2 separate regions of the Homo sapiens genome follow, and region 2 is linked to region 1. Evidence: fine-mapped expression QTL. A gene starts in region 1. The other region holds a variant in brackets. All regions are shown on one strand. Distances are from middle to middle. Region 1 holds the start of ZC3H18 (zinc finger CCCH-type containing 18). Region 2 overlaps ZC3H18 (zinc finger CCCH-type containing 18).

Region 1 (4,382 bases):
GACAAAAAACTCGTTAATTGAGGAACTACCTGTTGCCTACCAGAAAGGAATTTAAAATAAGTGCCCAGGAGGAGGAGGTTGCGGTGAGCCGAGATCCTGCCACTGCACTCCAGCCTGGGCAACAGAGTGAGACTCCGTCTCAAAAAATAATAGTAATAATAAAGAGCAGGTGCTACCTCCCTTCCGAGCAGCCCCTCTGGGAGGATGCACAGACTCCAACGGCACTGCTGAAATGCAGAGCGTTTGGGGACCTTCTCATTGCGAATGACCTTCCAAGCCTAAAGAAGTCTTCTGGTATTCTTAGTGGTGGCAAATCTTCCTCCTCTCAAGCTAGTCACTTTGATAAAGTGCTGCAAGTCAGAGTCTCACCTGATAAGGTGAGCTACCAACCACGTAAGTAAACTTTTGGTCAAACCTGGAGGGTGACTATTGAATAAGACTGATTTTCCCATATGACTACATTTTTACTACCACAACAGGAGTTCTAAAGAGATTCTGGCAAAGAAGCACCGATGAAATACAAGCACATTTTGGGACAATTACTTTCAACAGAGCAGTACCTATTTGAATGCCTAAGTTCTGGTACATCTGGTTAAAATTCTGACTCATAACCTCATGGACTTAAAATATCTAAATGAACGTTATCAAGGTTGGTGACAGACCCCACGTGCAAAGTGACCAAGCGTGACCACTAAACTCCTTGATAAAGAGGTACTCACCTTGAGATGCTCTGTAGCTGTGACAAAATACAAATCTCTGTAAACACGATGTAGGCCATAGGTTAACTTACCTGTTTGCTTTCTGGAGTGACTCCACAAAGCTTTCTTACAATATTTCAGCATGTCCCACCTACAACGGGAGAGGAGTTTCCGGCTTTGGGACACATTTGACTGGTTCCAGGGCTGGCTGGGCTCCATACTGCCCTTAGATAGTAAAATTATCAGGAAAAGACTCTCCTCCCAAAGCTGGGAAGCGGGATTCAGCCGAGGTCAAACCTCACCCGGATAATCCCAACTACTGAACGGGAAAGGACTACTCTACAGACAACAGGCTGGAGGTGAGTCTAACAGGAGACATGATGAGCACCTTGCTACACCCCAAACGGTACTTCAGATGCCAAACACTCTCTTCTTCCATTTTCCCAAATGGGTCTGAAGAATGACCTACTCTTGCAAATGAGTTAGCGTTGTTCGAACAAAGCTCATTTAAAACGGCCACTCTACCCGGCAAACTCAGTTGTCATAAAGTATTCAGGAAAAATGTTTGGCAGGAGTAAGGCTGTTAAGTTTCAGTTCTTCCAGCATTATAGCTGCAGTTGGTCTATATAAAGGACCCAGCACCTCTGATCTCCTAATCCAAGGGGCAAGGAAGTTACATACTCCTAAGAGACCGGCGCGCGTCTTGGGGCAATCACTGCGCCCAACCTGTGCACACTTTGAAGCTGCGGAGCAAGTTCCAGGAGGTTCATAAAGAGCTCAAAGTTCTCCGAAGAGCCCAGCAGCAGCCCGGGATGACCTACTCTGGAGGTGAATCTGGGCGCCTCTCACCGCCCCTTAGCCGGCGGCACACATGTGCCACGCGAGTGGCCCGGAAGAGAAATGACAGCTTCAGGAAAATAAACTCTGCCGCGGGGCGCGGAGGCAGCGCGCGAGGAGCTCGGGCGCCCAGGGCGCCCCAGGACCGCGGGGCCGGCTTACGGACGGAACTCGGGGTGGTGCCTGTCTCAAGGTCCCCTTCCCTGGGCCCGAGGGCCACGCTTCGGCCGGTGGGTCCGCACGGCCGGAGGCGCGCCGGGCTCCCGGGCCTCCCTCCCGCGGCCGCCGCCGCCGCCTCGGCGGCCTCCTCCTCCCGCCGCCGCCGGCCCGGCCTCCCGCCGCCCTCCCGGCCCCAGCTAACCTCAGCGCTAGGGCGGAGAGGAGGCCACGGCTCCCCTGGAGTCGGAGCGGCGTGGAGAAGACGTCCCTTGGCCCTTCCGCTCTTCACAGGTTCTGGCTCCAGGCTCGACACGGGCGGAACAAACGGGCTCCACTACCCGCGGGGGCCGGCCATTGTGCGACGTCATCAGGCCGCGACGGTAGTCCTACGGCCGGCGGGCTTCCCTCCCTCGCCCCGCCCCCTCCAGCTTCCTTCCGGCCTCCGCGCGGTTCCGCCCCCGCAGCGCGCGCCCGGACCCGCGCGAGCCAGCCGAACCCCCGCTACAGCGCAGGCGCCACGGGGAGTTCGCTTCTCAGGCGGCGGGCGTGCGGATCCGCGCCTGCGCACAGAGCTCCCCGCGGCCGCCGGGTCACGTGACGGGGCTCCGGCTGGGCCGGCGGGTTCTTCATCCCCGGGGATGATCGAGTTCATCAAAGTGGAAAACTTAAGGCGGTCTTCGTCGGGCTGATACTTCCTGCTTTATTGAATGTTGATATTAAATGCTTACCTCCGGAATTATTTTTTGAGGTATCGACTTTAGATTAAAAGCCTAACAATTCTTACCTTTCCCGTGGGCTGCCTGGCTCCCCGCGCGGTTCAACGCGAGCAGCGCCAGTGAGGGGACCTGTCGCGTGTCCTGCTCAGCGCGGTGTCCCACGGGCGCGTCCACAGCCCGGGGCGTCCAGGGGCTGCAGCGGTGCGAGCTGCTCTAGAGACGGAGGGCCCGGCCGGAGACCAGGGGCCGGCGGTTTCATCCTGCGCTGACCCTTGCCAACGACGTGGCTGGTCCTGGGGATCACAGGGCTTCGCTCATCCCATCTTCCTCCATATCCCCAAGGTGGAAACAAGGGGGCGAGATGTCCACAAACTGAGGAACAGACAAAATGCTGGCTGTCCATGCAGTGGAGTGTGAGTCAGTCATCAAGAAGAGTGAAGTTCAGACCCATGCCACAACATGGGTGAACCTTGGAAACATACTAAGTAAAGCAAGCCAATCGCAAAAGGACAAAACCTGTGCGACTCCATGCTATGGACCGAGTTCTGTCCCCCTAACATTTGTATGTGAAGCCTTAATCCCCAATGTGACTGTGTTTGCAGAAAGGGCCTTTAGAGAAGTAATTAAGGTTAAATGAGATTATAAGGGTGGGGTCCTGATCTGATAGGATTAGTGTCCTTGGAAGAGGTACCACAGGCCTGGCACTGTGGCTCACACCTGTAATCCTAGCACTTTGGGAGTCCAAGGTGGGAGGACCACCTCCTCCAGGAGTTTGAGACCAGCCTGGGCAACAAAGCAAGACCCCTGTCTCTACAAAAAAATTAACAGGGCACCGTGGTGCGTGCCTGTAGTCCCAGCAACTTGTTATGGTTACGTAAGAGGAATGTGAATTCAACCCTGGTGATTTTGGGTCGTGTCAGGAGCAGCCCTGCGACACCAGTTGGCACCTTCTGCAGACTCTATGTGTCGATAAGACAAGGTCCCACCCAGCAAGTGCCCTTTTCTCAGCTGATGAACATAAGCCTGCATGGACGTTACTGTCCATGGAAAGGAGCGGCCGGCACCGGCTGTGACAGACACGTGCCTGTCTGCGATCTGAGTTTCATGAACAGTAAACTCTGTTGGTCACAGCCTCTTTGGAAAACAATGTTAGTTAAAAGAAGTGCCCTGTGACCAGCAGTGCCACCCTCGACAGGGTTCTCCAAGTGGGACCCGGGCAAGCAGCCTCAGTATCACTAGGGGTTGTTAGCAATGTGCCTTCCTGGGCTCTGCCCCAGAGTGGCCGCACCAGTGACTGGGAGTGAGGTCCCAGGGCCCTGTGGTCCATGAAGAGCTCTCAGGGGATTCTGATGCCCAGTGGTACAGGTGGGCCACCGGACTGGGGTGTCATCTGCCCGTGGGCATGAGACATGAACAAGGACATAGCAGGTCTGTTAGTAGTCATAACTAAAAGAACAAAGGAGCCGGGCACGGTGGCTCATGCCTGTAATCCCAGCACTTTGGGAGGTCGAGGCGGGCAGATCGCGAGGTCAGGAGATCGAGACCATGCTGGCTAACACAGTGAAACCCCGTCTCTACTAAAAATACAAAAAATTAGCCGGGCGTGGTGGCGGGCGCCTGTAGTCCCAGCTACTCGGGAGGCTGAGGCAGGAGAATGGCATGAACCCGGGAGGCGGAGTTTGCAGTGAGCCCAGATCATGCCACTGCACTCCAGCCTGGGCAACAGAGCGAGACTCCGTCTCAAGAAAAAAAAAGAACAAAGGAAAAAACCAGAAAACCACCCAGATGTTGATGAGCAGATGATTGTACTGTTGTAATAGTAATCTGGTACAACATTTGCAACATCGCGGTTGTTAAAAATGCTAACGCATGAACCTCCAGTGTGTATACACAGATATAAATAAACGGGTGAAGACCATCTGTGAGGTTGCATGACAAAGGCAAGTGCAGAAGCAGACAGGGTGGGCACATT
Region 2 (4,382 bases), 35 kb before region 1:
GACATGAAGCGTGTGAATAAATGGGGAGACGCCTGATACAAAGTGTGCATGAATAAATGGGGGTTTTGAAACCTGACACAAAGCGTGCATGAATAATGGGGAGACGCCTCTTGCACTGGGAGAGCGCAGCTCGGAATCGCCCACAAGTCAGTCCTTCCTACACTGACTGATAAATTTAACACAATCCCAGCAAAAACACCAATGAGCTTCTTTAAGGAGCCAGACAAGCTGACACCCAAGTTCACATGAAAAATCGCACCCCAAGAACAGCCAAGAAAACCCTGGAAATGAAAAGACACGCCAGACACGCCCTCTGAGACATTAAACATCCTAAAAAGCCTGTATAATTAAGCCAGTGCCATCGCAGCACATGAAAACCGGCGGCCAGAAGGAGGAGGCAGGAGGTCCAGAGGCAGACCCAGGCACGCCCAGAGAGGTGGCATCTCAGGGACAGAGGGGATTCTTCATTGAACAGGGAGGGGACGACTGTCCAGCTGCTGGGAAGGTCAGGCTCTCTTCCCCACTGCGCACAGGGTTGGGGGGGGCCTGCTCTAAACTCCTGGCGGGGCCCACAACTCTGCATCTCCTTTCCTGTGGAGCAGAGGAAACAAAGTGTACACTAGCAATAGGAGGTCCCTGGACGCCCCTCCAGGGTATGTCTCAGCCACAAGCCAACCCTCTGCTTCGGGTAGACTGGGTGGGAACCTGAGGCATCATGGCTTGAGGTGGCTCCAGCGATGGGTGGCTACGAACACCCTCGAGGCCTCCTCAACTCTCCACATGGCCTAGAACTGGCTCTCCCAAAGGACACAGCTTCAGTCCGTTCCCATCAGTCGGACACCGTTCAATCTAATGTGCACACTACTCAAATCACACTGAATTATAACACTCAGGAAACATTTGTAGAGACCTGTGGCAATATGACATCAGGCTACATAAAAACGAAGAGGAAGCCTGGACAGCACGCGAGACACCGTCTCTACAAAAAACACATCAGCAGCCAGGTCTGGTGGTGCATGGCTGTGGCCCCCAACTACTCGGTGGGCTGAGGCTGATTGCGTAAGCCCAATAGGGTAGAAAAGCCTTTCCCAAAATGTGTGAGGCGTGTGTTCTCTGACAAGAGGACTGTGCCGGCAAATTTGTTTTTGGGAAACTGTACTTAAGCAAAATGAAAAGGCCTCTTTCCTGCAGGCTTTCTGGAAGTCGTGGATGAGCGGATAGGAATGAGGCACACAGCATTTCCTCAGCGTGGCTGCCTCGGAACCATCTGCTCCGCAGCATGCGTTCTAGAGAACGTGTCAACACAACACGCCACCAGGAACTGCAACCATGCCAACAACGGACTCCTCAGCACCATCCTGAAAAATTCTGAAACACTCTTGAAATGAATTTGGAAGGTATTTAATTCAATTTAAAAATAAATGCTACTGGGCAGTATCATGGTATGCACAAACTCTTCCCCAACTGTTTTAGGGAACCCAAAATGTTAATGGGCCTTTTGAGAAAAGGGTTCTGTGGTGAAGCAAGGTTGGGCAAAGCTGGCTCGCAGCAACTGGGAGGCTCGCACCTCGTTCTGCAGTCACCACTTAACCAGCCAACACCAACAGTGTCCTGTGCACACACGTGGAATCTGCACTCCAGAGGCCCCGCGTCCCCAGAGGTCTGGGCAGCGTCAGACTCAGCACTGGCACGTGGAGTGGACCTACTCCTCGCTGGAGAGGAGAACCCGAGGTCCTGGCTAAGGGGAACCATTGGACATGCCCATCAGGGGCAGGTGGTTTCTGCCCACAGCCTTGCCCAGGGAGAGGCATGGCAGGTGAAAAGTCGAGCAATTAGAGAACGTGTAAGACAGAAGTTTGGAGCTTCGAGATCACTTTGTTTAACCATTTCATTTCAGTGACAAGGAAACTGGATCTCAAAAAGTACTAGGAAAAAGTTCTAAAATGTCTAACACTACTCACTTTTAATCTAAGGGTTATGCAATATTACACAATGAAATGCAACTTGCATTTGCACAATTCAGGTTGAAATCGTGCTGACCTCAACCCAGGTGGAGGGAGGCTGTGCTCTGCAAAGGGTGGGAGTCAGATGCTCACGTGTCCCTGCTTGCTGCAGAGACCCAAGGTGAAAAGGAGGGTCCCAGGCAGCTCACAAAGGGAGCAGCGACGCAGCCCCCTGCTGCCTCTTGCCCTCACCCCAACCCAGCATGGTCGACCTGGTGCCCACCTGCCTGTTGCCCACGTTCCTGTTGCAACGCTGGCCACTGAAAGTGCAGGCAGGGGAGGAGGTCCCCAAAGGCATGCAGAGGCCACAGGCAATGCCTGGGCACCCATACATCCATCTGCCCTGAGTCTGTG[G/C]GACTGTGGGCTTACCCATGTGGAGCAGGCCCTGTCTTACTCTCCAGGTAGCCCAACCCTCCCTCCCTGCTCACTCAGGGGGCTTCCCCACAGGGCACCAGCAAATCCCAGGTAAAAGCCACTTGTGCTCTCTCAGTTAAGCATCTGGGACAAAGGAGGTGCTGGACCAGCATCTGGTAGACCTGTTACCTGAGGAAAGGGAGTGTGCTTTTTGAAAATTACTGTTCTGTTTCCTCTGTATCCCAGCCTGACATCCTACTCCAAAGAACAGCAGCCTGCACCTCCGCCTCTAATACACCGGCACTGCACTACTCTCTGTGCTGGGGGCGTATGGGGAGTTGGCAGGGGCCCAGTCCATGGCCCTGGCCATGGCCTGACAGCCTGACTCTGATTTAATCAGAAACTCTGTTCACGGTGGGGCTACTACTGATGACCGCATTTCTCACAGGTGACGTCCTGTGCGCACTAGAGGCCCTTGTGTCTTTTGGGTCACATGTCCCTATTAGACTTGTAGAATATTCTGGGCACAGCATCCCCAGGAGCCCTATGCAGAGATGACATTTCTTTTTTTTTCTTTGAGATGGAGTCTTGCTCTGTCGCCCAGGCTGGAGTGCAGTGGCGCCATCTCGGCTCACTGTAAGCTCCGCCTCCTGGGTTCACGCCATTCTCCTGCCTCAGCCTCCCGAGTAGCTGGGACTACAGGTGTCCGCCACCACGCCTGGCTAATTTTTTGTATTTTTAGTAGAGATGGGGTTTCACCATGTTAGCCAGAACGGTCTCAATCTCCTGACCCTGTGATCTGCCTGCCTCAGCCTCCCAGAGTGCTGGGATTACAGGCGTGAGCCACTGTGCCCGGCCGTCATTTCATTTCTTAATGTCTTACATATGTGAGAACTTTTTTTTTTTTTTTTGGAGAAAGAGTCTCACTCAGTCACCCAGGCTGGAGTGCAGTGGCACGATCTCACTTGCTGCAACCTCCACCTCTCGGGCTCAAGAGATTCTCCCACCTCAGACTCTTGAGTAGCTGGGACTACAGGTGCGTGCCACCATGCCCAACTAATTTTTGTATATTTTGTAGAGATGGGGTTTTGCCATGTTGTCCAGACTGGTCTTCAACTCCCGAGCTCAACTGATCTGCCAACCTTGACCTCCCAAAACACTAGGATTATAGACATTACTAGCTACTGTATCCAGCCAATATGTGAGGTTTTATAAGTCAGATGGTACCTGAACAAAGTGCTTGAGGTGGTAGAAACGGAATATTTAAAGCTGCGAATCAGAGTGCGTCTGTCTAGCAAAGTATTATTATTATTATTATTTTAAGAAATGGGGCTGGGCACGGTGGCTCACGCCTGTAATCCCAGCACTTTGGGAGGCCAAGGCCGGTGGATCACAAGGTCAGGAGATCGAGACCAACCTGGCTAACATGGTGAAACCCCATCTCTACTAAAAATACAAAAAAAAAAAAAAAAATTAGCCGGGCATGGTGGCAGGCACCTGTAGTCCCAGCTACTTGGTAAGCTGAGGCAGAAGAATGGCGTGAACCCAGGAGGCAGAGCTTGCAGTGAGCCCAGATTGCGCCACTGCACTCCACGCTGGGCGACAGAGCCAGACTCCGTCTCAAAAAAAAAAAAAAAAAGAGACGGAGTCTCGCTCTGTTGCCCAGGCTGGAGTGCAGGGGCATGATCTTGGCTCACTGGCAACCTCCGCCTCCCAGGTTCGAGCAATTCTCCTGCCTCAGCCTCCCAAGTAGCTGGGATTACAGGTGCATGCTGCCACGCCCTGCTAATTTCTTCTGTATTTTAGTAGAGATGGGGTTTCACCGTGTTGCCCAGCCTGGTCTCAAACTCTTGAGCTCAGGCAATCCGTCCGCTTTGGCCTCCCAAAGTGCTGGGATTACAGGCGTGAGCCACCGTGCCCGGCCACAAAGTATTATGTTTACTAAGTGATCCTGCTAGGTCAGTTTTTAATTCCAAAAGAGATATAAAGAAAAAACAGGCCAGGTGCGGTGGCTCACGCCTGTCA

Evidence for each region. PIP is the estimated chance that this variant, and not a neighbour inherited with it, causes the effect.
Region 2: its variant is the best candidate, but not a certain one, in a credible set for the expression of ZC3H18 in whole blood (INTERVAL, PIP 0.79).

The regions. Positions count from the first base shown.
Region 1 is chr16:88,568,081-88,572,462 of GRCh38, reverse strand. ZC3H18 (zinc finger CCCH-type containing 18) reads right to left here and starts at 2,060. Exons shown (of 18, transcript NM_144604.4): 1 at 1,897-2,060. RefSeq lists enhancers at 1,470-1,519, 2,610-2,659, 2,770-2,879 and silencers at 1,790-1,859, 2,040-2,369.
Region 2 is chr16:88,603,238-88,607,619 of GRCh38, reverse strand. The region is part of intron 6 of ZC3H18 (zinc finger CCCH-type containing 18); the gene reads right to left. Among named protein-coding and RNA genes, the nearest start is that of IL17C, 33 kb to the left of the region's middle. RefSeq lists an enhancer at 1-469. The variant G/C (reference allele first, on the strand shown) is at 2,358.